7 linked regions of the Homo sapiens genome follow. The protein of the gene in region 1 interacts with the protein of each later gene in a pairwise test. Each region holds a gene or a part of one and is shown in the gene's direction. Other genes may lie near its edges. The genes, in order: DISC1, HNRNPC, BRD1, OLFM1, UBASH3A, TRIO and ABI2.

Region 1 (4,240 bases):
GACATGGAGTCAAAGGAGATCATTTCAGATCTTTAAGATTTGACTGCCCAGCTGGAATTTGGAGTTGCGTGGGGCCTGTAGCCCCTTTGTTTTGGCCAGTTTCTCCCATTTGGGATGGAGCATTTATCCAATGCCTGTACCCCTAATGTATCTTGGAAGTAACTAACTTGCTTTTGATTTTACAGGCTCCTAGGTGGAAGAGACTTACTTTGTCTCAGATTAGATTTTGGACTTGGAATTTTGGGCTAATGCTGGAATGGATTAAAACTTTGGGGTACTGTTGGAAAAGCATGATTGGTTTTGAAATTTGAAAGGGACTTGAGATTTGAGAGGGGCTGGGGTGAAATGATATGGTTAGGCTTTGTGTCCCCACCCAAATTTCATCTTGAATTGTAATCCCCATAATCCCCAAATGTTAAGGGAGAGACCAGGTGTAGGTAATTGAATCATGGGGGCAGTTTCCCCAGTGCTGTTCCCAGGATAGTGAGTTCTCATGAGATCTGGTGGCTTTATAAAGGGCTCTTTCCCCCTGCGTTCTGCACTTCTCCTTCCTGCCACCATGTGAAGAAGGTGCCTTGCTTCCCCTTCACCTTCTGCCATGATTGTCAGTTTCTTGAGGCCTCCCCAGCCACACTGAACTGTGAGTCAATTAAACCTCTTTCCTTTGTAAATTAACGAGTCTTGGGCAGTTCTTTTTAGCAGAATGAAAACAGACTAATACAATAGAGTCTAGCAATAGAGTGGAGAACAACATAGTTACAAGCTCTGCCCTCAGGGAAAAGAAAACAATAATCACATAAATAATTAGAATTGTCATAAATACTCTGAAATAAAAGTAAAAAATGCTAAGAGATCCATCATATTTTCCAGTTGGAAGGCAGGGAATGTTTCTCCCAAAAAGGTTATTTAAGCCGAGTTCTGAAGATAATATGATTTAGTCAGATGAAGGCCTGGTTATATGTGTGTTGATGGAGAATGGACAGAGAGAGTTGATCTAGCCTGGAAGAGTTGGACAGGTCTGAGGATTCAAAGCAAGTCAGTAGGGCTGGTAACACATATATGAGCAGAAACTGTGTTGTATTGGGCTGCTGAGTCTGGAAAAATACATAGGATTTTGGATGCCTTTGCAGACCAAGCAGCTAAGGACCAGCACATTTCATGGTGACTTGATGGTGTGCAAATTTGGTCCCTCTGATGAATCTTCTAGTTGAAATAATTTATCACTGTGAAATTAAGTCATCAAGTATAAGATGACCAGCTGACTTTTAGCCAGGTAGACAAGCTATCGACTTGGTATGATGAAACATCACTGAGTTCATTTTTATGCCTTTGTTTCCTCTCTGTCTCAGCTGCAAGTGTCCACTGCTTGGGAAAGTGTGGGAAGCTGACTTGGAAGCTTGTCGATTGCTTATCCAGAGCCTACAGCTCCAGGAAGCCAGGGGAAGCCTGTCTGTAGAAGATGAGAGGCAGATGGATGACTTAGAGGGAGCTGCTCCTCCTATTCCCCCCAGGCTCCACTCCGAGGATAAAAGGAAGACCCCTTTGAAGGTATTGGAAGAATGGAAGACTCACCTCATCCCCTCTCTGCACTGTGCTGGAGGTGAACAGAAAGAGGTCTGTCCTTTTCACATGGCCTCCAGAGGGGACCCTTATTCTAAGGGGTGCTTTGGGACCATGCTCCAAATGGGAACAATAAATATTGGGAAGGCTTCCCATTGAGCATATAAACTTTTAAAAGTTTCAATAACTCTTGAATATGATTACAAAATAAAGTAGAATTTTTGTAGAAGTTTGAAATATAGAAGAGCAAAAAAACCCAACTTTTGGCATATTTAGTTCCATTTTCATTCTAATTTAGTGGCTAGAATTAGAATATGCAGTCTAATATAGAATTACCATATATAGCATACATTATATATGTCATATATAATATAGTTATTATATTCACTATAGATTATATATGCCATACATGATATTTAACATATATACTATACATTATGTATTGTATGTCATATATGATGTTTATATATTTAGAATCTATATATTACAATATATTATTATTTATTTGAATGAAACATTCAAATATATGTATTTATCCCATTAATTGTTTTTACCAAAACCAGATCATAATGAATGTTTATAATGTTCTTCTTTCATAAACACAACTAAAGTTTGGCCTGAGATATATGTATTACAAATTAAAATATGGTTTTATTTAACTTTCTTTTTCTCTCCCCTCTTTCCTCTCTCCCTTCCCCTTCCACTCCTCACTTTCCTCCTCCCACCCTAACAAGAGTCTTTTCCATAAAAAGGCCCTAGGAAGTTTTTCCTGATTTCAGTGCCATGACCTGAGTCTTCAGAGCTCTTTGTTGGCCCAGGTTCACAGGTGTTGTGAGTGTGGAAAGGAAATAGCATGGAGAGGCTGGAGGAACTTGACACATGGCTTTCAAGTCTCATGGTTGATGTTAGATGTTAGCTGTGCTTCCTCCCTGGGTCTTTGCCAGGACTCACCACTGGTGGGTGGGGAAATTGCCACCTCCCCAGGCCAGCCCTGCCAGTCTCACATCCCATCTGCAGGACCATGGCCTTCAGAGAGCAGACATTTGTGTTCTTAGTCACTGCCTCTGGACTGCTTAGAAAATCGATCCTTGATCCTATATTTGGATTCCATGGTCTTATAAGAAAGCAACCACTGTCACTCTGCATCCTTGCTGGCCCAGTCACAGGCTCTACGTTAATTTATAGACATCTGAACTCGTTTGTTAACCCAGGTGCTACAGGTGGAATCCTCCAGCAAAGCCTGGTCTCCAATGCTCTGGGTAGAGGTGTTGAAAAGTTACCACCTGCTGCAAGTGGATGGCTTGAAAGAATATTCTGGGGTGGAGGGAAGTGCCACCTAAGCAAGGGTTTATTCCTGGGTGGAAGAAACTGCAGGCTCTGGGAATGAGTCTTTGAAGGTGTGTCTGGCTTTCCAAAGTGAGCTACCAGGAGGAGCTCGGTGTGGGGCAGTCAGAAGCCATGCCAGGTATGTGATGGAGTCCCTGGGTCATTGATTCTGCTGGAGGCCAGGACTGATTCAGCAGAGATCCCTTTCTCCTGTAGCGGAGAAAAATGAATATCTTTCCTTTACCCATCTAAAGGTTCTCAGCTGAGGCACCTATACAGACAGAGTAACAAGAGAAAAATGTACAAATGTGCTTAATATAAAATTTACATGACACAGGAGCCTGCAAAAATGAAGACCCAAAGCAACAGAAACCAGTGTATTTTTATGCTTAAGTTTGAAGAATAGCAGACAGATGTGGAGAAGTATAATTGGACAAAAGGAGTATGATTTAATGGCAATAAACTGGGGGGAGCTTAGCAAGGCCTGTTTGCTCGGATTCTTCGCTGCATCCCTGTGTCTTCAGAGATAAGGATACTCCTTTCCTTTGGGTATAGGTTGTACACTTTAAAGATGAGGGTGTTATAATCTACTTTAGAGGAAGGTCAGATAATTATTTATGGCCTGCTTCAGGAAAGAATGGCTGCAGAAGGTCAGAGAGACTTTCCTGCTTCTGCTGTTCCTCAAATGCCAAGGTGCCATATTTTGGGGTAGTGTATTCTGAACCCCATCACTCTCTCCCTCCCTTTCTCCCTCCTTCTCTGCCCTGCCCACTGAGCCCTGAGCCCTCCAGGTTCTCTGGGGACAGACTTTCCCAGGCATAGGAGGATTCGTTTTCCTGCATAGCATTATAAGCACCTGTCAATTTCACTATCTGGCTATAAGAACACAGAGCTATATTTGTTGAAAAATAGGAAGCTTGGGGTCAAGGATGAAAAAAGAGTGGAGCCTTATCCTAGGTCCTGTGGTGGCTGCTGTTTGGGTGCTCCAGGGGTCCCCCAGAAAGCCTCCCAGATCCTCTCCACCAATTGAAATGCTGAGGATGTCCTACATTTATTTGTTGCTTTCTTGGGGGTGAGTGGGTGCTTTAGAGGGGACCTTACAGCTTTTGCTGGCTTTCAGTATCATTTCCCTGTTCCTGTATCGCAGTGCTGGATTTATTTTCACAGAGAGGGCAGCCGTTCTCTGAATTCATGAGTGCCATGGATTTTAAGACAATGTTTTCTGAGAACGGCAAAATTATGGGGCCAGAAAACAGATAAATTGTTGCCAGGAAAGGGGAAGGGACTCATTACAAGAGCAACAGGAAGGAATTTGGTGCGTGGAAGTTGGGGGCGGTTGATAGAAGTATTCTCT
Region 2 (4,240 bases), on another chromosome or scaffold:
AACTTCCAGTTGAAAATAAATCAGGACATTACTAGTGAACTCAGCCCATTTATTCCTGAAATTGCAATTTTTTGAATTTTTGCAATCAGACCTTGGTAATGACCTAATGCAGTAGGATATAAATAACTCCGACAAGCTTAGCATTCCAGTAATGGAACATTAGGCATAGATGGGTTAATTATTGGTCAGGTGTCTTGAAGGCACTGAAACCCAGTGAGTTTGTCTGAAGCATCTGCCCTTTAACCCTTTCTGCACATGGTAATTGCTTGACCACATTTAAAATATACTCATGCCAGCTTCTCCTATAGGGATTCTTACACAACTGGTCTTATGCAGACTTTCTTAAGTACTAGTATATTTTTCAGTGCTTTCTATGTGTTCTTTTGTCCAGTCAGAGTTGAGAATCATTAATAAAAGATTAAGGACGTGGTTGTGTTTCTGTGTATTATTATCCTATTTCTTTGTCATGGCTCAATTCAGACCAGTTTAATAAACTCACACTTTTGTTGGTATAATTTCAGGGATGTCATGGACTCTTAGTTGATGTTTTTTATGAGTGTATCAAGTTTTAGCAGTATACAGTGACAGTCTTCTTGAAAATAGTTCTCATTAAAAAGTCTTTTCTTGGCAAGGCACATTGTGAATGGGGAAATTTGAAAATTTGAGCAGGGAATTTGGAAAACATTAGTTGAGACAATGAGATATATACTGCAGAGAAATCTAAAGAAATCACGTTTGCAGAAATATCTTCACAGAAATTGGTGGCCTCTTCAGATTTTCAATAGACAACAATATATTAGGTTTGAGCAAAAGTAATTCCGTTTTTGACATTTCTTTGAACGGTAAAAAGCAAAACCGCAATTATTTTTGCACCAGCCGATACTAGTAGTTACTGTCGGATATATTGCTGCATGTTATTGTCAGTGAAAAGTAATGTCTTCTATTGTTCTAACGTCAGCCAGTAGATAATGATTACTGATAACTAGTGGAGCAACTAGGTAATAGCTGGCAAAGAGCTGACTTTTAGAGTACTGAGATCTTTGTTGGGAAAATGAATTTTAGGAGGTGTCCACATGATGGGAACTTACTCAAGTTGGGTTGGAGAATTGAGGAATTGAGTGTGTGTCTTACATGATAGATGTTAATGAAGGTGAAAGGAGGAGGAGTGTTTGTTTAGTGGGGAGAGGGGCAGATACAGGAGTTTTTTGCTGGTTTGGAAAATGTTAGGTCAATTTGGACCTGGGAAATAGGTTGGGTATGACCTGGTGGAATAACAACTTAGAAAAATGGTATTAATATCTTCTAAGAAGTCATTCTGAAGATTCATTATCATAAGGTTTAGATTTTTATTTTAAATGGTAACAGCGATACTTCATTGACTATGTTAAATTGTTTAATCAAAGAAGATGGGAAATTGGCTCTGAGTGAAAGCTCTGGGTCTTCATATGTAAATCGGAGTAAAAATCACTGTCCCCCCCCCCCCTTTTTTTTTTTTTTTTTGAGATGGAGTCTTTTCTGGCACTCAGGCTGGAGTGCAGTGGGTTGGTCTTGGCTTACTGCAACCTCTGCCTCCTGGGTTCAGGCGACTCTCCTGCTTCAGTCTCCCAGGTAGCTGGGATTACAGGTGTGCACCACCACACACAACTAATTTTTGTATTTTCAGTAGAGACAGTGTTTGTCCACGTTGGCCAGGCCGGTTTTGACCTCTTGACCTCAGGTGGTCCACCCGCCTGGGCTCAAGGGATCTCCCTGCCTTGGCCACGCAAAGTGCTGAGATGACATGTGTGAACCACTACGCCTGGCCCTCTTTTTAATATTCATTTGAAGGCGCTGGTTTTGTTTTGCGAAAGGTGTTGTAATAAAAGTGAATTTTTATCACAATGTTGGGAATGCACAAGTATTCAAAGCTGTAGTTGTTGAATTAAGCGAGATTGGGAAGTACTCTAAAAATAGATCTTTAAGTCCTTAGGTAGGCTGGCATATACATGAAATTGATGTTCGTCAACAGCTACCCTGGTACTATTCTTTCTTTCTTTTTTTTTTTTTTTTTTCTTTTGGAAACGAGTCTCGTGCTGTCTCCCGGGCTGGAGTGCAGTGGTGCAGATCTCGGTTCACTGCAACCTCCGCCTCCCAGGTTCTCGAGATTCTCCTGCCTCAGCCTCCTGAGTAGCTAGGATTACAGGTGCACACCACCACACCCAGCTGATTTTTTGTATTTTTAGTAGACATGGGGTTTCAGTATGTTGGCCAGACTGGTCTCAAACTCCTCACCTGACTTCATGATCCATCCACCTTGGCCTCCCAAAGTGCTGGGATTACAGGTATGAGCCACTGCACCTGGCCCAACCTGGCACTATTCTTATAATTCTTTAAAAAATTCTCATAAAAGTCTTGATCTATATGTGTTTTCTGATTTGTGCCACAAATACTGCAGTGTTTTCATACTAAAACTATATCTAGATATAAACTAGATATATTTTCTTCAGATTGTAATAAATTGGAACCCCACTTTCCCTTATAATTGATCACCCATGAAATTGTTCTCAAATTAGATAATGGTGATATTGCAGAACTAATAAAAACCACGGAGTGGCACCCTTTTAAATGGTGAATTTTATGGTATGTGAATGACGTTTTGATTGAAAATGGATGCGACATTACAATTGAAAAAGGATACATCACTGTCTTATGGACAGTCATTCTTTTTTGTCATATCTCGTGGACCCTACCTACATCAGGATACTTGCCAGTTAGAGACATAGATGAAACCCGTCTGGTGCTACCAGCCTCAAAAGGTAACTCTTACGCCTGAGGATGGACACCTTTTAGAATTAAAAGAACTCTCAGTCATTGTGGGACATCTTGCTAGCCTTCATAGAGACTGATTTACTGTCAGCTCTTTTCTTGAGTCGTCTCATCTCTCTCTGTTTTTTTTTTTCCTTTTTTTGAGACAGAGTCTTGCTCTATTGCCCAGGCTGGAGTGCAGTGGCTCGATCTCGGCTCACTGCAACCTCCACCTCCCAGGTTCAAGTAATTCTTGTGCATCATCGGCCTCCCAATTAGCTGGGGTTACAGGTGCCTGCCACCATGCGTGGCTAATTTTTTTTTTTTTGTATTGTTAGTAGAGACGGGGTTTCACCATGTTGGCCAGACTGGTCTCAAACTCCTGACCTCAGGTGATCTGCCCACCTCGCCCTCCCAAAGTGCTGGGATTACAGATGTGAGCCATCGTTCCTGGCCTCTTTAATTCTTATTTGGAGAACTTTGGGCAACACGAAATAGAAACTGCCAATAAATGGCAGGTTTGATAACAGGCTTTATTATGACAGCGGAGACTTGGTGAGCAAGAAACCTGGTTCAAAAAGACTGGTTTAGTTCAATGGTCTTTCTGAGGACTTTTTAAACTTAGCACATTTTGTATGTGGTGCATGACTAGTAATACAGTATATAAGTAACGAGTATGAAATTCTTAGAGGTTTTCAGAGTGCTGTTATTACTCCATGGCTAAATATATTAATATGTCAGTGCATTAGAAATAGACAAATCTTCAAGAACTCACAGGTCAAAGATGACACATGTAACAAAGATTGAGTTGTGAGGGGCCTTGATGTGTTTGAGGAGCAGCCAGCTGTAAAGTAAATTGTAAAGAATGTTAGTTGTAAAGGGCTTTGTATTACATGTTCTGGGATTGTGTCCTATAGATGGTATTTTAGAAACAGGCCTGTGGCTAGAGGAAAAAAGATGTGTTAAATGGTAAACATTGTAAATGTTGGAATGGAGAGGAGGTTGGGAGAATTTCTGAAGTAGATTGGTCTTGATGTGATTGGTTGGACTAAAGGTATGAAAGTAGGTGCTTGTAGGAAAATAATAGTCAAAAGCTGAGATTTTGTCTTCGTGACTAGATGATAGATTATGCCATTAATGGTTACATGAAGGGGGGTTTCACAGAGTTTGTGCTGTCAGAATTTCAAGGAGACAAGCAATTTTGCTGCTGGTTTTATTCTACCTGACTTTTCTAGGAATGTATCTTGGTAGAGAGAGAAAATTAGTTGAAATGAAACCATTGAAATTCAAGACAGAACTGTCAAACCATCATTTCTTCAACTATTAATAGTTAATATCCCTAATTTTGTTCTGGGCACACAAAGCCTGAGGCTTTGGATTAACAATATGGGTTGAAGGAGAACCTTCACCTTACTGAGTTTAGATTAGCAGACACTTTGACCTCCTTTTCTATTTT
Region 3 (4,240 bases), on another chromosome or scaffold:
CTCCAGGGAGAGGGCACCTGGTTCAGGCTGGTCACGGTGCTGCCCCCTGGGCTCAGGCTCCCCGTTGGGAAGCCTCCGTCTCGTCCAGCCCTGGAGCTGTAGGAGGAGTCGGGTGCACTGGGCTCTGGATCTGCGACTCGGGGGGTGATTCTCATCCATGCCTGTCACTGGGTGTTTCTTCCGTTTTGAGTTGCGCTCCCCCGCCCTGCCCTGCCCGCACACACGCTGATGGGCAGTGGCCAGCTCTGGGGACTGGGGATGCTCAGGGATGTGTTATGCTGTGGCTGCATGAGCGTCCGGGCTGGGGACAGCAGGAGTGGGACCCGGTGAGCACACCCGGGCCATGTGGGTGGGGGTCTGTGTGCTGGGCCTGGAGGGTGGGTTTTGGAAATATGTGAGGAGTGGTTTATTTCGAGGGCCTTGCTCTGAAGGTTGGTTTAGCTGGGACTGTGGTGGGGTGGGGAGGGCTCGAGAGAGCTGAGAGAGTGGGAGGGAAGGAGCAGGACTTTTCCTTTTTAAAAGAACAAACCCAAACTCTTACATTTTGATAGTAGGTTTGAGTTTATAGACTCATCTGATACTGTGAAACAGTTCTGAAAAAATGGGTTTACAGAGTGAAGTAGCTTCTGTGAGATGCACAAAAGTAATTGAAAACACAAGCAGCTCTGCACACGGCCCAGGACCTGCGGCCAGCGCCCTCTGCCCACGCTGCCTAGTGAGGAGCCGCTGGTCTTTTGGAAGAGCTGTCTGCTGCTGGCGTCGCGTGGCCTGAGTGCCTCTTGGAATTTCCTCATGGTGCTTTTCACTGCCATCCTGGGCACGAAGCGAAACCATCCTGCTCTGCTGTGAGGTGGTGACTTGCTCACAGGAAGCTTGAGTCTACAGGGTTCACGGTTGGGTCCCCGTGCGGTGGTGCGGTGGCCGGTGCTGTCTCTGCCTCGCAGACTCTGCCTCTGCAGCGTGAGCCCTGTTCAGTCACCTGCCGTGGCTGCCTTGTGCTCCAGGGAACTACAGAGTCTGGTGCTCTGGTCTGGCAGGTGGTGGTTTGTGGGTCTGATTTGGTGTGGTGGGGTCCAAAGTTTTCTGACGGCCTTGGTGCGTCTTGGCTGTGGAATATTCCAGGTCTCCCGTGCCGTCCACCTGGGTTGCCCCACTGTGTGTCTGTCCATGGAACTTGGGGCTCCCCGGGCAGGTCTGTGAGCCAGCCCCTCTCCAAGTGAGATCCTCACGTGTCCACAGAGTTGAGGCTTCAGTGAATGTCTTTTGGCTGTTGAATGAGTTAACCGCATCTTCCGTTCCATGATGTGACTTGGCTTTCCATCTCTCCTCTGTCCTCACCTCGTAGCCTCCAGGGCTCCTGGAAAGGACAGCACGGTTTGGGGGGCTCTTAAGAGGCCAGAGTCAGGAAGTGGCTGAGCGGCGGGAAGCTCTGGGGGCTGGAGGCATTGGTCTCGGCCCCCGCGATGTTGGGGAAAGGAAGAGAGTGGAGGCATTGGTCTCGGCCCCCGCGATGTTGGGGAAAGGAAGAGAGTGGAGGCATTGGTCTCGGCCCCCGCGATGTTGGGGAAAGGAAGAGAGTGGAGGCATTGGTCTCGGCCCCCGCGATGTTGGGGAAAGGAAGAGAGTGGAGGCATTGGTCTCGGCCCCTGCGATGTTGGGGAATGGAAGAGAGTGGAGGCATTGGTCTCGGCCCCCGCGATGTTGGGGAAAGGAAGAGAGTGGAGGCATTGGTCTCGGCCCCCGCGATGTTGGGGAAAGGAAGAGAGTGGAGGCATTGGTCTCGGCCCCCGCGATGTTGGGGAAAGGAAGAGAGTGGAGGCATTGGTCTCGGCCCCCGCGATGTTGGGGAATGGAAGAGAGTGGAGGCATTGGTCTCGGCCCCCGCGATGTTGGGGAAAGGAAGAGAGTGGAGGCATTGGTCTCGGCCCCCGCGATGTTGGGGAAAGGAAGAGAGTGGAGGCATTGGTCTCGGCCCCCGCGATGTTGGGGAAAGGAAGAGAGTGGAGGCATTGGTCTCCGCCCCTGCGATGTTGGGGAATGGAAGAGAGGCTTTTTTGGGAGGAAGTTGAGGGTTCAGATCTTGGGTCTTATCTCGGGGCTGGACAGAACTCCAGGTAAGTCACAGAGGAGCTGTTGAAGGGCAGATTCCATGGAAAGTGGGCATGGATGTGGCCAAACGGGACGTCCAGCGGTGGGAATCATCATTTCTACTCTCATAAGCTGGGACACGAGGGCCAGAATCCCTGCAGTAGCAGGACACGTGGGCCAGTGGGCAGGGGCCACGGGGACCCAGGCAGCTGGGGGTGGCCTGGGGCGTGGTGGAGCCAGGCAAGGGAAGGGGGAGGGTTGCAAAGAAGAGGTGACCCGCTGGAACCTGCCAGCTGGGCCCCCTCTGCTTCATCGCTGCCTGTTAGGCCTCACGTCCTGTTGTGTGCAGAATACGTTTGTAAGGAGAGAACATCCCCACAGCCCGGCCAGAGCAGCTCTTCTGGCAGAGGGGGCAGCTTCTCGAAGTCACCTGGGAAGGAGCAGAAGGAGCTGCCTGGACTTGAGCCGCAGCAGAGCAGTCGGCGTGGAGAGCCTGGAAACCTGCCTCTGTGTGAACGGGCTATTGGGAGAGACTGTGCTTCTGCCTTCTCCTGGCCAGGGATGGCCACGGCTTGGTGTGGTTTCATGGTTTTGAAGCTTTGGAAGTACCTGATGCATTTGATTCCTCTGTGTCTCTGTGTACCTGCCCCAGCCTGACCCTGTGGTGGGGGCAGGTGGATGAACTGGACGGGGTCTCTTGAGAGGCCAGCAGGCGCCGAGGGTGCTGCAGCGATGGCGGGTCTGTGCTGGCTGCGCATATAGGCCCTGGTTTTTGTTCTGGTGTGTGTGGCCGTTGAAGGCCGCAGGGAGAACGGGGGCGGCAGCTTAGCTTTATAAAGGGTGAGCAGCGATTTGTGTGTATGCTGGTGGCGTCCCACTGTCTCCTGCTCCCGTGGCCCACCCTTCCTGTCCTGGGAGCGCATCCTGCAGCTTTCCCAGTGTCTGTCCTGTGGCATGCTGGGCGCTGCTGCCCACATCGTCCTTGCTGTGCTGCGTGTGTGGCCTCTGCCAGTCCCACGCACCTGCTGGCGGCATTGGGCCCAGTGGCAGGAGCTGGGTGCTGTTGCCAGGAGGCCTGGGGTCGGCCACTCTGTAACACTGTGGGCCCTCACCCCAGGAGCTGGCCTGTCCTCCCAGCAGAGGCGATTTTAACCTGACCGTCGCCTAGCCCTGCCCTGTGTCTCCCCCATGTGTCTGGAATGGACGCGGAGGCGCTCAGCTTCTTCCCGGCAGTGGGGATGCCTGAGTGCTTCTTCACTTCTGTCCTTTCTCGTGGAGCCTCCCACTGTTGATTTTTACATGGGAAATATCGAGCCCTTGAGAGCCGAGTAAGGAACCTTGATCCTTCTGAGTGGATGAGGCTGCATGTGTCATGGGACCTTGGGCCCAGGTGCTGTCAACGGGGCCCCTGCCACTGCCGATGGCGTTTGTTAAACCAGGTTGGGGAGCAGACTAGTAAGTTTGCTTAGCAGCCAGTGCGTGATAAAGGGCTTCCTGGTGATGAGGAGATTTCTTCCGCTTCGTAACAGATTCCCAGGCCAAATGTCCTTTTGGCCGAGGTTTTCAGAAGTGTCGATTGCAAGCTGAGGGACAGGCAATACTCAGATGCTCCGGGGAGCTTGGTTTTTGGAGCCCACATTTTCCTGCCTTTGCTTGAGTTGATGTGGATCTTGTTACTCTTAGCCCCGATTTCCTGCCTGAGGGTGTTCAGCAGCATTGAGGAAAACCCAGAGATCCTCACTTCAGGGGACATCAGCGCAGCAACGCTCTGCCTCGCCATGGAGAGGCCTGGCCTTGGGGGTGGGGGTGCGGGGCTCGGCCTCCCTCCTTGAGCCTCCTTTTCTGAGCAGTTTGGAGTCCGGGGTCCTTGCATCTTGTAGTCCAGCAGTCTTTGCCTTCACACCCTCGGTCCTTTGAAAAGCTATGACAGTACCCTGAGGTGGGCAGGTGGGAACCCGGGGACAGAGGCGTTGGGGGAGAGGAGGGTCTCAGGGCTGTGAAGCATGTGCCAGAAACTGATGGCCACGGCTGTCCTGAGGCTGGCAGGGCGCGCGTGTCCTGCAGCTGTGGAGGATGACAGGTGTTGGGGGCCCACTCAGGCCAACTCCCTCGTTGACTTCCTCTCCCCTTTGAGGTAGGGTCAGGGTGCCCC
Region 4 (4,240 bases), on another chromosome or scaffold:
GCTGCCTGCAAGGTGGAGGGCAGACACCTGGTCTCCTTCCGGTAGGTCATGCGACCGGGATGAGTCTGCTGCGGGTGTGGTTCCGGGCGTTAGTGTGGGCCAGCGTCACGGAAGGCCCGGCGTGTTGACTGAGGAGGCTGAAGTGGCCAGAGCCCGTGTGCGCTGCTGGATGGAAACCCAGCATGGGGCCGCCACTCCTCTAGGCTTCTCCTTCCGGACAACTAACAGAACCACGGCGTGGAAAGTCCTCACGGGATGTTCACAGGGCCAAGGCACTGTCTTAGGGGACACCAGCCTCTGGATGGCAGGGAGGGCTGGAGAGGGGCTGTGAAGGGCTTCTCCCAGCGCCCACCCAGTGCAGAGGGAGCTGCTGTCTCCCCCGAAGCCCAGGGCCCCCCAGCAGCCGGAGGGTGAGCCCAGCCATGGCTCCTCCCTCCCACCTCCTGCCTCCTGCTCCTCCAGGGCCTTAGTGAAGCCGCCCTGAGCTCCACCTCTCCGCCAGCGAGTTGCACTGGGGTGAAAATCTGGGCCGGGCTCTCCTGGAAGAGGAGTCTCTTGTGAGACTTCTCAGACCCCCCACATCTTCTTACTTCTCGTCCCCATAGACGCCGGTCAGCTGTGGCCATCTCCTCTCCATCCCTTTCTTCTGCTGCTTCTCCTCCCACAGATGGGGAGCATGGCCTGGCCCAGAGCCCGTGTGGACCACGGCCGAGAAGACCCTGGCAGCCTCTCACCCGGCCCCACTGCCAGGAAGCCTCCAGCCATGAGGGGACAATATTTACTTGGGAAAGCACATAATTCCTCCTGAAAGTAGGAATGGGGAACTACGCACGGAGGAGGAAGGGAGGGAAGGGCTGTGACATTTCTTCTTCCAATCGGGGCAGAGGCGGCAGCCCGGGAGCCAGGTTGCCGGGGCCTTGGAGCAATGCAGCCCGACTCGATGGGAATTTGGGGGCAAACCCAGTCTTTTTCTGTGGGCAGTGGGCTCCTCGTCCCTCTGAAAGCCCTGGTGCCCGGATGCACGCTCTCCCACCAACCCACAGAATCGGAGACGCCTCCATGCCGGCAGGGCCGGGAGCGTTCCTCTTTCTGGTCTTGTGTGATGCCAGTAACAGGCCACTTCCAGTTGGGAGAGAGTGGGAGGCACCCTGAGACCCGCGCTGAGCATGGGAGTGGCCAGGCCGCGTCCTCCCGGGGGCCAGCCTGGAGCCTGCCCCACCCTGCTTGCCGACAGGATTATCCTGGCTGAGCCGAGGTCCGGGCGCACTCACCCGCAGTCTTCCCCCACACGTGGATGGCCTCTGAACTCGTGTGCTCGTGCAAGCCCACCGAGGGTGCCACGCAGACCTAGGAGGTCACAGGCGGGCTTGGCCGGGAGGGACAGGGCAGGGTGCGGGGACTTGTGGTGGAGGGGCCCTTCCTCTACCCTCCCCAGGAAAGCCACCCACTTCCCATCCAGGGTCCCTGTTAGAATCAGGAGCGTTTGGCCCTTCAGAGGGCGGCCGAGGCTCGTGCATTCTGGAAGAGCTGCGTGGCTGCGCAGACACACCGGCCTCCGGGCAGGAGGAGTTCTGTTCCTGTGCAGTGGGTGTGGAAGCCGCCCTGAGCCCTCGGGGGTGTGGGGGGCTCCAGCCTCAGTCCAAATCACCGGGTGGCCCGGGTGTGTCCCTCCTCACCTCCATGGTCCTCTGTGAGACGGGAGGGCTGCTGAGATCACATCCAGGATCCCATCCGCCCTGGTGCGCTCCAGCTTGGGCTCCTCCCACTGGCAGAAGCAACCGGCTCACGCCTGTGGGAGAAGCGCGCAGGCTCTTCCTGCGGGAAGGCAGCTGTGGCCTTTGTCCCGGGTCAGTTCCGGGGCGGCTGGTGGTGCTGCTGCTCCATCGTGGGACAGGGCCTGCCTGGATGCAGTGTCTCACACTGGGCCTGACTGTGCCCCACGCGGGCTGGGCTGTCAGGGCATGACCTCTAATGCCCTTGGGGGTGGAGCCGCTGCGTTCCCATCTCCAAGAGAAGAAAATTGAGTCTTGGCAAAGCTGACCCCCTCTCCTAGAGGTGCTGCTCCAGCACCCCCATCCCCAGGCCATGGGTCCAGCAGGCTGAGGAGGCGTGAAGCCTGGGAGGGCGGCCGTCTGCCCACGGCTCTTCCCTGCTATCCTGGCCACAGCTGCTCTGTTTTGGGGAGGAGGTGGCTTTTCCGAGAGTGGGGGAGTTGTCTGTGAAAACAAGGGCGTGAGCAGCTTTCCACAGTACCCCAGACCCCGAGGGCAAGAGGAGAAGCCGCCACATGGCACGTGTGCTCTGGGCAGTCGAGGTCAGGGTCATCACCGCGGGCCGGGGCCCCCGCCCTCCCTCTCCTGACCTGCGTGCTCTTTTCCAGCTTGCGGGAAGTTGACGGGCATCAGTGACCCCGTGACTGTCAAGACCTCCGGCTCGAGGTTCGGATCCTGGATGACAGACCCTCTCGCCCCTGAAGGCGATAACCGGGTGAGTGTCCCCTTATGTCATAGGGGGTCATTTGGGCAAGGGCGCTCTCGGACACCTGGTGGGCCCCAGACATGGGTACAAGCCACGCCCACCCTCCAGGGCCTATGGACTGGGCAGCTTGGTGCCTGGGGGCGTTTGTTCCTGGAAGACTTTCGGGAGGGACCCAGGCCTCTATGCTAATCCAGAGCTGTAGATCATGGGCCAGGGAGTGACATGAGGTTGATGGTATCCCATGACATGGCTGTAGACCCCTTCAAGGCCTCCTCCCCGGCCCGGTGGGCTGGGCTGGGCTGGGCTGGGCTGGGCTGGGCTGGGCTGGTGCCCCAAGTCCATTTCTCTGGAGCCGAAACCCAGCCCTGACTTTTCCGGTCCTTGCATCTGCTTCAGGAAGAGAATTCATTAGGCCTTTCTTGTTTTAATGACATCTCATTTGTATTTCATTTGCCATTCCTTTCATGGCTGATGGAGACTCATGTTCCTTTTGATTTAGGAAAGAGGCCATGTTCTTTTTTCCCAGGCTTTTCCCCGCTGGGTGAAACCTCAGAAGAGGAGAGAGAAACAGGCATCATATTTGCCTTTATCTGGGGGGCTGGGTTTTATGTTCGAGCCCCTTTGAAAAATGGGGAGGTGAGGGTGGCTGCCCGACTGATGGTGAGGCCCGGCCTCGCTCGGCCCCTGGGCCCCAGACCCCTGTATACAGGCAGCATGGGCTTGTAGACTCCCTCCAAAGTGAGCACCCTCTGAAGGCTCTCGATGGGGGAGGGAAGCTGTCAGGGCTTCGCTGTCCCTTGATTTGCAAACTGACCTCTGGCTGCCAGAGTGGGCATTTCTCACCCAGCAACCCCTTCCTTCAGGGGTTTGCAGGACACTTAGAAAATAAACACTTAAAAACAAACAACCCAGCTCTGCCCTGGGCCGACTGAGAAAGGCCCTTTGAAATGTGAGATCCTCTAAGCTTTATCTGGAGCGGGTTTGAAGGAAGGGATGGACCCAGCTCTCTCCCCTCTGATTTCTGATCTCTTTGCCTCCCTCCTTCACCATTGCCACCATTTCCACGAAATCTCTTATATTTAAAACATGGGCGGTACGGCCTCTGGCACACTCCTTCCTTCCAGGAAGATGGCTGGGGAGGGGAGGGGGACTGGCAGACTTGCTAGAGCCTGTTGCATGTGTCTTGATCCCCCAGCCTCGCATGGGAGTGGCCCCCGCCCCCATCTGGAAGGGCTGGCCAGACTGCAGAGCCGGGATACAATTGGTGTTGGGTGTTTGTCAGGGAGGTTTTTCTGTCCTGTTTTCTAAATTGTGACAGCTGAGGCTTGGAAGTTTTCTAACAATTTAATTAGCTGTGAAGACTCTGACCACTCTTTTATTCCACATCCCACCTGGAAAACCCCACTTATGTTCAGAGTTAGGAACTTGCTCCTGCCACAGATGTTTTTGTAATGATCATAATACAGAAGAAAACAAGGTGATGCTGGCAGGCACTTAGAAAGCAGGCCCGGGCACAGTGGCTCACACCTGTAATCCCAGCACTTTGGGAGGCTGAGGCGGGCGGATCACCTGAAGTCAGGAGTTTGAGACCATCCTGGCCAACAAGGTGAAACCCCATCTCTCTAAAAATGCAAAAATTAGCCAGGCGTGGTGGCGTGCACCTGTAATCCCAGCGACTCCGGAGGCTGAGGCATAAGAATCGCTTGAACCTGGGAGGCAGAGGTTGCAGTGAGCCGAGATCATGCTACTGCACTCCAGCCTG
Region 5 (4,240 bases), on another chromosome or scaffold:
TCGCTCTGCCCCCACCATCTCTGTTAATGACTCATCTTTCCATGTTCATCCCTTGGCCCAGGGAGACCTGCAGCTCCCTAAAGCAGGGATGCTGTGGACTGCAGCTTCATGGACCAGCATGTGACATGCTCCCCCCTGCGGTGCCATGTCACAGGGAGGTTGAGGCATGAGTCCTGGGTGCCAGAGGGCAGCACCACTGGGCCTGTGTTGCTGCAGGGTTCCCCACCTCTTGCTCTGAAATGGACCCCCCTGGATAGCCTGGGCCTGGCTCTGGGGCTGGGAATGTAGGTGAAGGGCCGATGTCAGCTGGCACATTAGTGCCCTCCAGGGAAGCAGCCGAGCCTGGTGTCTCCCTCCAGGGTCCTGGTGCAGGGCTTATGCTCCACGCAGCTGTCCTGGTGGCCTCTAGCTGGCTCGGCCCCTAGCACTCTGCTCTCTGGTCCCAGGGGGGGCATCCTCAGCTCTCATTCACTCTCTTCATCTCATTTGCTGTGGGTTCCTCTCAAGGCCAGTCCCTCAACTTGATCAGCCCTGCACAGCATGGGGAGAAGGGTGGCCTAGCCCCTGAGGACAGAGCCCCCCACAACACCATCCCACACAGTGGAGGCCCCTCCCAAAGGGTAGCCAGCCTCGCTGCCCCAAGCATGACCTTTGGGCTACTTCCCCAAAGCACAGGCTCCCCAGAAAGAGGGCGGGCGTGAGCCCTGTAACTGCAAGGCTCCAAGGCCATCCTGCGGCTGCCTGAGGCTGGGGAGGAAGGTGCCAGAGAGCTGCTGTCCCTGGCTCGAAGCTGCTGGCCACCGCCAAGGCCAGTCTCATGCCGAGAAGAAGTAAATAAACTATAAAGTACTGTTTTCCTTTAGCATTCAGCCAAACAGAGAATGACCAGCTATGGGAAAACAGCAAGGGGATGGATGAGGGCTTCTCCCCTTGGTGCTCAGAAGCAGAATTCATACCTGGGAGCCATAAAAGGACGGCCCCTCAACAGGTCAACACCAGGGCAGTCCTGGAGGGTTTCTCAGAAGAAGTGTGCCAGCAAGAGAGGAGACTAGATATATAGATAGGTAATCTATACTATAACAATACATATTATAATATAGATAGGGATAATGTCCTAAGACGTCTCTATGGGAATGATAAGGACTTAGAAAAGACAGAAAAGTAGAAAAACGGATGTGTCATGATAGGGGCCAATCCTGTCTCTTTTCATTTTCTTGATGTTAGAATGCCCAGAAAATAAAACATTGGAAGAAATTGAAGAGATTGTCAATTTCATGTCCTCTTTCATTCTAATGATTTGGGCAAAATGGGCTGAGCTATTGACTAACGAAGGAAAAGATTCCCTCGCAGTTGCTGGGTGACTGGGAGAGCTGCCATTGGTGCAAGTCCAGTGAGTTGGATGTTAAACTGCATGTGCCTTGCTTCCTGCCCCACCCCCCAGGCTACCGTTGCAAGGAAGAGCGTGCTGGTGGTTCGCCACGGGGAGAGAGTGGATCAGATCTTCGGGAAGGCATGGCTGCAGCAATGCTCCACTCCTGATGGTAGGTCACACTCAGGCGGGTCTACGGACAGAAACACTGTAGATCTAACCAATGAGATCTCCTTCTTAATGACCTTACATGGCACCAGATCCCCTGAGGCACCATTCTGTAGAATGACCATGTGTAGACTGTATGTGTGGAAAACGTGCCTGCTACATCTTCCTCCAGGGGTGTTCCATGTATGCATTTGAGTGTCTGTGTTGGAACCTCTCCAACCTAATCTTAACTGATGTAATTTTTGGCTATGCTGCTTAACAGATGGACGTATTCTTGAACATGCCTCTTGCACACCCCAGCTTTTCTCCTCTGAATGCCAGGAAGTAAGAATAGTGCTTATAAATACACATACCCACAAGCCAACCTCTGTATTGATGATCAATGTCCACATCAATGCTAATCTCCTAATAGGAAGCCTGTAGTGTCACAATTTCTAAGCCATGACCCATTACATAAATTAAGGCATTGAATGTAGTGACAAAATCAATTCACAGTTGCTAGGTTAGCCGAACCCTTTTGGGATCCCCCTCCAGAAGCCCAGCAGACCCAAGAAAGTGGTAAATGAGTAGGGAAAACCATTGGCAGATGACAATCACACACCAGAAAAGATTCTGAGCAGATAACATCATGATCAAGCATATTTCCAAGAACTCACAGAGCTAATAATATGGTCACCTCTATAAAACAAGATCAAGTAAAGATACAAGAGCTTAAAGCAACAATAAGACAATAGGTGGCTATCAGGATGCATTAACAAACATATAAGAAACTTTTTTTCAATAAAACAGTTTTTTTAGCTATTGAATTACTGAAGCTATAGATTGAACTGACACACCTTGTCCATGGTGGGGAGAACCAATACAAAACAATCAACACCAAAAATAGTTATTGAACTTCATAGAAAAAGAAAAAATATTTGGTCATCTGGACAAAAGATCAAGTCACTTATAAGGGAAAATATTTTAAAGGCACTGGAAATCCCCATCTGAAAGGAAACTCCTGGTGGATCTTTTCCCAAGGTAGAGAGGCCCTTGATAAAGTGAAGAATTACATCTAGTTTGTCTGAATTTTGTATATTGCAGGGTTTAATAAATCACAAGGAGGTATAGCCACGTCCTCCCCCAAGGTGACCAACCTCAGGGAACACAAGGGAGATTTGGGGGGCTCTACTGGCCTCTCCCCAGCTCAGCTCACTTTTGGCCCAGGCACCCACATCCTCACAGGGCCCCTCACCTCACCCCATATTCCACACAGACTCTGCTCCCATCAGGACCTGACCTTGCCCCACATCCTTGTCCTCTCCTGAGCTCTGCCCTCTGCCCCCAGAGTGATCACAGCTGAAGTGTCAATGACAGCAAAATACCTAAATGGAGTGTCTTGACATTTTAGAGGGGGATCACAGATGCCTTTGAGAACACAATGAAATTGATGGACTTTCTCTCTGATTTTAAAACTGCCTTTCCCAAGAGCTAATGTTGGCATTGAATAAACACCTCTAAAATGCAGTGTTCAAACAAGAGTCTCTGCCCATGGAAATCCCAGGGAGGGAGTCTTCAGAAAACTCCTATATGGAAACTAAAATGCAGGCATGAAAAATTGCCCCCCGCTGACCCCTGCTGCCCCCCACTGCCCCCTGACTCTGGGTTTGTGCAAGGCTGTGGGCCAGGATGAAGGGGCCTGGCATATTCTGGGGTGCAAAGGGCAGGGCCTGCTATGTATGGCAGAGCAGGTCTCAGGAAGGTCAGTGTGGCTGCTGGAACCTCCTAATAACCAGGAGGCTTGGGGTCCCTTTGGAGAATGTGAAGGCAAACCAGAGTGCACTGGAGGGAGCAGTGTGTCGTGGTGTCCTGTGTGAGGATAATCAGTCATCCTGACGTGGTGACATGAGACCAGTGCCCCGACTCGTTGACCACTCCCTCTTGAGTCAGACTCTGGGCTATGGGTGTTACCTCACTGACACCTCGCAATCGCTACTCTTTCCCTGTTTTTTACTGATAAGAGAGATGAAGTCATTTATTTCTGGCTGCACAGTGAGGAGATGGTGATGCCAGGATTTGCTACCAGACTGTCAGATCTTAGAACTCAAGGTCAAACTCCACGTGAACCCTGGCACCGGGCAGCCTCTGGTGGGAGACAGTCCCAGTGAGCCCACTTCCAGCCTGGCTTCAAGCAATTGACTAAAGAATGCACAACACAGGCATCTCCAGCTCAAGCACTCTGTCCCCTGAGCAAGAAGGATACGTTTAAAGCTAGGGGGATGGATCATTGATGCCAACTTCAGATTCTTACCGAGTTACACTAAACTAGTCATAGAGACACTTTATCAGGTTCTTCATCAGGAAAATGTAAGAGTGAATCTTCATGGGGCATTTTGGGAGGACAAAGAGGGTTGCATAGTTCCTGGGGCTGAAACCTAAGTTGTCTGCATTTGAGAAAATGTTGTGTGCACAGCTGAGCAGCACTTTCTTCTCAAATTGAAGCCACGTTGCAGAGAATGTTCAGAAACAACACAGTTGACAATAATTTCAATAATAACATTGCTGTTAGAGTGGGTCTTGGTCTTGGGAGTTTTGTGGAACAAATCTGTACTAACTTGATGAAACTGAACGTCTGATGCTTATTTATACTTCAGGGAAATACTACAGGCCAGACCTGAATTTCCCCTGCAGTCTGCCAAGACGGAGTCGTGGGATCAAAGACTT
Region 6 (3,500 bases), on another chromosome or scaffold:
CACGCCATCCCCCGCAACAGGCGGGTTTGGACCCTTGACTGTGCCGCTCTACCACCGGCTTCCCTCTTAAGATGGAGACACCCTGTACCCCACTCGCATCTTCCCAACAGAGCTTTACAAAATCCCCCTCCTTGTCTAGTCACGCCTTAGAGGCACGGCCCTGAGATCCCGATGACACATTCATAACAGGTGACAGGTCCGACATGTTTACTTCTTACTAGCCCAAAGAGGTCTTCAAAGCAAATCGCATCATAACAGTCACCCGCTCCTGCCTCTTTAGGGCTGACCAGGGTCGCCTCCTGGACTGCGTGGTGCGATGGGGAAGCCTCACTGAAGGGAAGATCAGGGCGCACCTGGGGGAGGTTCTGGAAGCTGTCCGGTACCTGCACAACTGCAGGATAGCACACCTGGACCTAAAGGTTGGTGAGGCCCCGGGCAGGTGAAGGGGGGTCTGAGCACACCGGCTTGGCCATGCGGGACACAGAGCCCCCTCTGAAGCCAGGCCAGGAGCCCCCAAGTGACTAGGGACAAAAAGGGTGGGTGGGGCAGCGCAGACACTGATTGCTAATCTCTCTCTCTAAGCGTTTGCGTTCAGTGATGCACACGGTCAGGAGCACACTGGGTAAAACGCCGGAGCCCTCCCAGCCTTCCACGACTTTCAGAAAGTCCCCATGAGTTTTGCCCGGTGGGTGTGGCGGGTGCAGTGGTAGCTTAGGCGGGAAAGAGAGCATTCCCCTTGGTGCTGGGAGGGAAAATGAACACCCAGCTTCATAAAGCAGCCTGGTTTCATTAGGCTACTTGGCACTTAGATCTCCAAAGAGAGCTGCCCTGTGTGGATCTGGGTCCCAGCTCCGCTGTGTCATCTCTTCCTCCTCACCCTCGGCTGCCAGCTGAGTGGTCCGGCCTGCTTTGCACATGCATGGCTTGTCCTAGTTGACATCCTAGATTCCTTCCACCTCACCATAGAGTCCCGCCCATCATCACGAGTAAGCTTAAGATTGGATGGTCTGAAAATGACAGTTGTATTCTGATTTCCAGCCTGAGAATATCCTGGTGGATGAGAGTTTAGCCAAGCCAACCATCAAACTGGCTGACTTTGGAGATGCTGTTCAGCTCAACACGACCTACTACATCCACCAGTTACTGGGGAACCCTGAATTCGCAGCCCCTGAAATCATCCTCGGGAACCCTGTCTCCCTGACCTCGGATACGTGGAGTGTTGGAGTGCTCACATACGTACTTCTTAGTGGCGTGTCCCCCTTCCTGGATGACAGTGTGGAAGAGACCTGCCTGAACATTTGCCGCTTAGACTTTAGCTTCCCAGATGACTACTTTAAAGGAGTGAGCCAGAAGGCCAAGGAGTTCGTGTGCTTCCTCCTGCAGGAGGACCCCGCCAAGCGTCCCTCGGCTGCGCTGGCCCTCCAGGAGCAGTGGCTGCAGGCCGGCAACGGCAGAAGCACGGGCGTCCTCGACACGTCCAGACTGACTTCCTTCATTGAGCGGCGCAAACACCAGAATGATGTTCGACCTATCCGTAGCATTAAAAACTTTCTGCAGAGCAGGCTTCTGCCTAGAGTTTGACCTATCCAGAAGTTCTTTCTCATTCTCTTTCACCTGCCAATCAGCTGTTAATCTGAATTTTCAAGAGAAAACAAGCAAACATAACTGATCAGCTGCCGGTATGTTCATCGTGTGAAATTGCATTCCAAGTGAGCTGTGCTCAGCAGTGCTTGGACACAGAGCTGCAAGCTGCGCTGGGGTGGAGGACCGTCACTTACACTCTGCCCAAGGCAGAGGTCGCATTGCTGTATCACAGTATTTTATTCAGGTTTCTGCAAAAAAATAAAAAGATAACTTTTTTAAACAAACATGAATAGAATTTTGCAAATTTAACGTTTTCAAGATTTATTCAAGGAAACAAAATGCCTATGTTCAACCACTGGTGTTAATGAACAAAGATACTGTGCGTCTCTGGGGAAGACGCACCTAGGTGGCGGCCACTCCCATGGCCTTGTCTAGGACTCAGAGACCACTCGGCTCTGAGCTTCCAGGCGCCTCGTCTGTGTGCATCTCACGCCCGACGTGGCTTCTGAAACGTGCATTCAACCTCAAACTTTTGCATAAAATAGAATGAATCGTTTTGCTCTGATGAAATGTAGGCCTTACTTGTATATAAGACTGTTCCTGCCTTCGGTCTGTCATTTTCCCACCTGCCTCCCCTACCCACCCCCCACCCACCACCTGGGGCTTCCTCTGGGGGTCCGAGGGTCTTCCCATCACATGAAGACATCAGGTTGGGTCCTGCCCCACTGCCCCTCCCCCTGTTCCTGCCCCAAGCCGTCAATCAGATTGTGGAGCAGTACACAGTCAGATGAAAATACTGTAAATGCACTCATTGGGGGTTTTTTGGTTTTACTTCATATCATGTGCAATGTTGTGGCTTTAACATTTTATGCAACTATTTATGAAGACCTCTGTTGTACCTGTAATAAATATATAGAAAAAGCACATACTTCGTATGGTGAGCTTTATGGTTTTGTGTGTGTGTTGGGGTTGGCGGGTGGGTGGGTAGGGTCGTAGCCCTGTGCCATCGGTTCAAAGAGACTTTTCGTGAAATTTGTTGGTTTTGAGGACTGTAAAAGTGATTTCATACTCTGAATATAAAACTGGATAATAGGGTAATGTTTTAAAATTTATTATGCTATTATTCAGAATGCCAAAGTATTATTTTTTTTCCCAAAATCAGTCTGGACATTTACTACTTTTTAGACTTTTTGACGTTGAACTTTCTGTATAAAAATTGGCTGGGTTTTGAGCTTTTGGTAAGAAATAAAAGCCGATTAAGCACTGGCCGCCCCGCGGCTGGTACCCAATGCCCGAGTCACTGTGGCAGCATTCGCACTGGTGTGGGGAGTCCTTTCAACTCAAGGAGGCTGGGTTTCTGGGCACCCTCGAAGTTTTCTGGATGTCTTTTTATCTTTCTCGTGTGAACTGCACTACAAAAGAGACCAGCCCGCTTCCCAAGCCAGCCAGACACCTGGGTCTTGAGCCATAAACTGGCGTAGTTAAGCTTTGCAGCTTCCAGTGTATTTTATTTATTCTTTTGTTGGGTTTTTGTTTGTTTCTTCTTGTAAAATTGTACAGAAACTTTTTAAAAGAAATTGGATTCGAAACTGGATGTGTATTCGTAACCTCATAATTTTTATTTGTGTATTGTTTCTTTTATTATTTCAGTTAAATTTTTACATTATTTTGCATGTATATTTCTTTGTACAGAGACCTTACATGTTTACACAGTATGATGTGATGTAAATATTTTATTTTGCCATCAGTTATTTTAAAAAATTAAACATATTTGCCTGATTTTTGTGTTAGGCTTTTTATTTAAATTGGTCACTGTTGAATCAGAAAGACAGATGGCTGAGGGAGAGACTGATGCAGAGACTTCTCGTGGGCGGGAGGTGGCAGAATGTACTGGATTGAGAACCCTCTGTACACAC
Region 7 (4,240 bases), on another chromosome or scaffold:
CTCACTGTCCAGAGATTCTGGGAAAAAAACAATAGAGAAGACAAAGCCAGTCTAGACACCATTTGACTCTACCTTGTGAATATTCTGAAAGTTACATTAGGCTAGTTGTAGATTTTTTTTTTTTTTGAGACAGAGTCTCTGTCGCCCAGGCTGGAGTACAGTGGTGCGATCTCAGCTTACTGCAACCTCTGCCTCCTGGGTTCAAGCAATTCTCCTGTCTCAGCTTCCTGAGTAGCTGGGATTACAGGTGCACGCCACCACGCCTGGCTAATTTTTGTATTTTTAGTAGAGACGGGGTTTCACCGTATTGGCCAGGCTGGTCTCGAGATCCTGACCTTAGGTGATCCGCCCGCCTCGGCCTCCCAAAGTGCTGGGATTACAGCGTAAGCCACCGTGCCTGGCCTAGTTGTAGACTTTTGATAGCTTATGGTTGAATTTTTATGGGATTGGTTAATAGATTGGATTCATGAGGTAGCATGTAGGGCAACACATTCTATTTTGGATTTTTCATTTACTTTGTGTTTCCTTCCAGATACGAAGCTCCTAGAAGATGGAGTCATTTCTTAAAAATTTCTATATTTTCCCATTAGCCGTAGGATGTTCTCCATATACTAGCCACTCATTAAATAGTTGCTGAATGTAAGAAATACAGACTTGAATATGCAAGAGCCTATGCACTGAATTATTTTTATTTTATTACTTTATTTTATTTTATTTTTTGAGACAGGGTCTCACTCTGTCACTCAGGCTGGAGTGTAGTAGCACGATTATGGGTCACTGCAGCTTGCACTCCCAAGCTCAAACAGTCTTCACACTTCAGCTCCCAAAGTAGCTGGGACTACAGGCTTGTGCCACCATGCCCAGCTAATTTTTTTTGTTGTTGTTGTTAGAAATGGGATCTCACTATGTTGCTCCGGCTGGTCTTGGAACACCTGGGCTCAAGCAATTCTCCTGCCTTGGCTTCCCAAAGTGCTGGGATTACACCTGTCAGCCGCCATGCCTGGCCTTGAATTATTTTATAAGTAGGATATAATTACATGTAAATTTACCTTGCAAGTTTTTTCCTATTTGATTTTTTGGTGACATTTATGTTCTGTAAAGTTTTGCAGTACTTTTCATATTTGCATAATTCATGCAAGGAACATAGTTTTGCTTTTTTCTTCTTAAGTAATATACTTTGTAGAAAATTTGGATGAGGTAACAGCTTTGTTTTGAATCATTTACAACATGAATTTTTTCTCATTTGATTTTTAAAGTCAGGTTTATTGAGTTTTAATACATATATGGTACAAGTCACCCTTTTTAGGTGTAAAGGTTTATGAATTACAATAAACTTACATAGTCATGTAACCACCACAATGTAAAATTTTCCTTGTACCCTCTGTAGTCAGTCCTGTCCCTCCACTACTAGCCTTTGGTAAACACTGATATATTTTCTGTCCCTCTAGTTTTTGCCTTTTCCAGAATGCCATATAAGGGGCATTATGTAGTATATAGCCTTTTGTGTTTGACTTCTTGGTACTAGAAGTCCTAATACATTTGAAAATCATCAGTGTTATTGTGTTTTGTCAGTACTTTGTTCCTTCTTATTACTGAGTAATATTCTAGAGTATGAAAGAATCATAATTTGTTCATCCATTCACCAACTGATGGATTTCTGGATTGTTTCTAGTTTTAGGCAGTGGTGAATATGGCTGTAAACATTTGTATACAGGTGTTGGTGCAACCTAAGTCTTCACTCTTTTGGGTAAATTTAAGGGAAAAGATCAACTGTTGTACCCTGGTAACAGTGGATGTATCCACATAGGCTGCATAGGCCAGTGCTTGAACTGCATCTGATCTGAATCTTGGCCGAGCACTTTGTGATCCTCTTGGAATATAAGATTATGGAAGTTTGCGAGGACCTTATGTGAAGCCCTTTCTCAATCTCTTCATCTGCCGAGGAGGCTGTACGTGATAACAGTGCCTCATCACCTCCTAGTTCCCATGAGATGAGGCTCTCTATTGTACCCTTTTAGGTAGTAGCTGCAGGCTGTAAGACTTTAGTTGCAGCATGGCATTGGCTCCTCCGCAACAGAGTGTCATATCTATGTTGTAGTCACCTGGCTCCTTTTGTTTTAGTATTGCTTTACACAAGGGCTGTATCTTTTACTACTATTCCTTCTGCCCTCCATGTAAATGGTAGGCTTTCTGAACCTAACAAGCAGTTGGGCAGGTCTATCACATTGCCTTCTCTTTGCCTTGACAATAAATATCTAATAGTGGGATTATTACCGTATGGTAAATGTGTGTTTAGTTTTATACAAATTGCCAAACTCTTTTCCAAAAACGATGGTACCGTTTTGCGTTCCCACCAGCAAAGATCCAGTTGTTCTTCATCTTTGTCAGCATTTGGTTTTGTCAGGTTTTAAAATTTTAGCTATTCTCTTGTTAGTGATGTCTCAAAGGCCATATATGACAAGCCTACAACTAACATCATACTCAACCATGAAAAGTTGAAACCTTTTCCTCTAAGATCAGGAATAAGACAGTGGTGCCCAGTGTCACTAGTTCTATTTAATCAAGTACTGCAAAGTACTAGAAGTCCTAGCCAGCCAGTTAGGAAAGAAAAATAAACAAAAGGCATCAAAATTGGAAGAAGTTAAATTGTCTCTGTTTGCAAATGACATGATTCCTTATGTATACAAAACCCTAAAGACTCCACCAAAAGACTGTTAGAATTAATTAACGAATTTAGTAAAGTTGTAGGAGACAAGATCAACATACAAAAATCTGTTGTGTTTCTACATATTAACTACAAACGATCTGAAAAATTAAGAAAACATTTCCATTTATAACAGCAGAAAGAATAGAATACTTAGGAATAAATGTAATCAAGGAGGTGAAAGGTCTGTACACTAAAAACTATAAGACATTTATGAAAGTAATTGAAGAACATGCAAATAAATGGGAAGATATCCCGTGCTCATGAATTGGTAGATTTGATATTGTTAACATGTCCATACTACACAAAGCCATCTACAGATTTAATGCAATCTCTATCAATATTCCAATGGTATTTTTCACAAAAATAGAAAAACCCTAAAATTCATAGGAAACCACAAAATACTTTGAATAGCCAAAGCAGTTTTGAATAAGAACAAAGTTGGAGGTATCATACTTCCTGATTTCAAACTATATTACAAAGCTATAGGCCTGGCATGGTGGTTCATGCTTGTTATCCCAGCAGTTTGGGAGGCCTAGGTAGCCAGATCACCTGAGGTCAGGAGTTCAAGACCAGCCTGGCCAGCGTGGAGAAACCTCATCTCTACTAAAAATACAAAAATTATAGGGCATGCTGGCACACGCCTGTAGTCCCAGCTACTCAGGAGGCTGAGTTGGGAGAATCGCTTGAACCCAGGAAGTGGAGGTTGCAGTGAGCTGAGATCATGCCACTGCACTCCATCCTGGGCAACAGAGCGAGACTCTGTCTCAAAAAAAGCTATAGTAATCAAAACAGTGTGTTACTGGCATAAAAGACATGTAGACTAATGGAACAGAATGGAGCCCGGAAATGTAGCCACATCTGTGCAGTCAACTAAGCTTTGATAAAGGCACCAGGTACACAATGGGGAAAGGATAATTCAGTAAATGGTATTGGGAAAACTATATCCACATGCAAAAGAATGAAATTTGATTGTTATATCACACATACAAATTAGCTAGAAATGGATTAAAGACTTAAATGTAAGATCTGAAATTATAAAACTCTTTGGTATGGGTCAGATGTTTGTTCCCTTCAAATCTCTTGTTGAAATGTGATTCCCAGTGTTGGAGGTGGGTCTTGGTGGGAGATAATTGGATTATGGGGGCAGATCCCTCATGAATGATGTAGCACCATCCCTTTAGTGATAAGTGAGTTCTTGCTTGGTTCACGTGAGAACTGGTTGTTTAAAATTAGTCTGGGAGCCCCCCCACCATGTGACATGCTGGCTCCACTTCTGCCATGATTACACCTCACCAGAAGTACGTGCCAGCACTGTGCTTTGTGTAAAGCCTGCAGAACCAAGAGCCGATTAAACCTCTTTTCTTTATAAATTACCCAGCCTCAGGTATTCCTTCATACGATCATAAGAATGGACTGATACACTCCTAGAAGAAAACATAGGGGAAAAAGCTCCTTGATTCTGGTCTTGACAATGGTTTTTATAAATATGACACCAAAAGCACAGGCAACAAAAGCAAGAAAAGATGAGAGTGA

The links.
Region 2: the proteins of DISC1 (region 1) and HNRNPC interact in binary tests that used the Homo sapiens proteins (3 or more experiments, as listed by UniProt).
Region 3: the proteins of DISC1 (region 1) and BRD1 interact in binary tests that used the Homo sapiens proteins (3 or more experiments, as listed by UniProt).
Region 4: the proteins of DISC1 (region 1) and OLFM1 interact in binary tests that used the Homo sapiens proteins (3 or more experiments, as listed by UniProt).
Region 5: the proteins of DISC1 (region 1) and UBASH3A interact in binary tests that used the Homo sapiens proteins (3 or more experiments, as listed by UniProt).
Region 6: the proteins of DISC1 (region 1) and TRIO interact in binary tests that used the Homo sapiens proteins (3 or more experiments, as listed by UniProt).
Region 7: the proteins of DISC1 (region 1) and ABI2 interact in binary tests that used the Homo sapiens proteins (3 or more experiments, as listed by UniProt).

What each region holds. Positions count from the first base shown.
Region 1 is NC_000001.11:232,007,436-232,011,675, forward strand, and holds part of DISC1 (disrupted in schizophrenia 1 protein), read left to right. Parts: intron 1-1,349; coding exon 1,350-1,614; coding exon of another isoform or gene 1,615-1,719; exon of another isoform or gene 1,720-2,219; intron 2,220-4,240. UniProt on the Homo sapiens protein: Involved in the regulation of multiple aspects of embryonic and adult neurogenesis. Required for neural progenitor proliferation in the ventrical/subventrical zone during embryonic brain development and in the adult dentate gyrus of the hippocampus.
Region 2 is NC_000014.9:21,224,139-21,228,378, reverse strand, and holds part of HNRNPC (heterogeneous nuclear ribonucleoproteins C1/C2), read left to right. Parts: intron 1-4,240. UniProt on the Homo sapiens protein: Binds pre-mRNA and nucleates the assembly of 40S hnRNP particles. Interacts with poly-U tracts in the 3'-UTR or 5'-UTR of mRNA and modulates the stability and the level of translation of bound mRNA molecules. Single HNRNPC tetramers bind 230-240 nucleotides.
Region 3 is NC_000022.11:49,799,915-49,804,154, reverse strand, and holds part of BRD1 (bromodomain-containing protein 1), read left to right. Parts: intron 1-4,240. UniProt on the Homo sapiens protein: Scaffold subunit of various histone acetyltransferase (HAT) complexes, such as the MOZ/MORF and HBO1 complexes, that acts as a regulator of hematopoiesis.
Region 4 is NC_000009.12:135,104,369-135,108,608, forward strand, and holds part of OLFM1 (noelin isoform 4 precursor), read left to right. Parts: intron 1-2,380; coding exon 2,381-2,487; intron 2,488-4,240. UniProt on the Homo sapiens protein: Contributes to the regulation of axonal growth in the embryonic and adult central nervous system by inhibiting interactions between RTN4R and LINGO1. Inhibits RTN4R-mediated axon growth cone collapse.
Region 5 is NC_000021.9:42,430,662-42,434,901, forward strand, and holds part of UBASH3A (ubiquitin-associated and SH3 domain-containing protein A), read left to right. Parts: intron 1-1,441; coding exon 1,442-1,541; intron 1,542-4,170; coding exon 4,171-4,240. UniProt on the Homo sapiens protein: Interferes with CBL-mediated down-regulation and degradation of receptor-type tyrosine kinases. Promotes accumulation of activated target receptors, such as T-cell receptors, EGFR and PDGFRB, on the cell surface.
Region 6 is NC_000005.10:14,506,842-14,510,341, forward strand, and holds the end of TRIO (triple functional domain protein), read left to right. Parts: intron 1-280; coding exon 281-419; intron 420-1,038; coding exon 1,039-1,581; 3' UTR 1,582-3,363; downstream 3,364-3,500. UniProt on the Homo sapiens protein: Guanine nucleotide exchange factor (GEF) for RHOA and RAC1 GTPases. Involved in coordinating actin remodeling, which is necessary for cell migration and growth. Plays a key role in the regulation of neurite outgrowth and lamellipodia formation.
Region 7 is NC_000002.12:203,334,557-203,338,796, forward strand, and holds part of ABI2 (abl interactor 2), read left to right. Parts: intron 1-4,240. UniProt on the Homo sapiens protein: Regulator of actin cytoskeleton dynamics underlying cell motility and adhesion. Functions as a component of the WAVE complex, which activates actin nucleating machinery Arp2/3 to drive lamellipodia formation.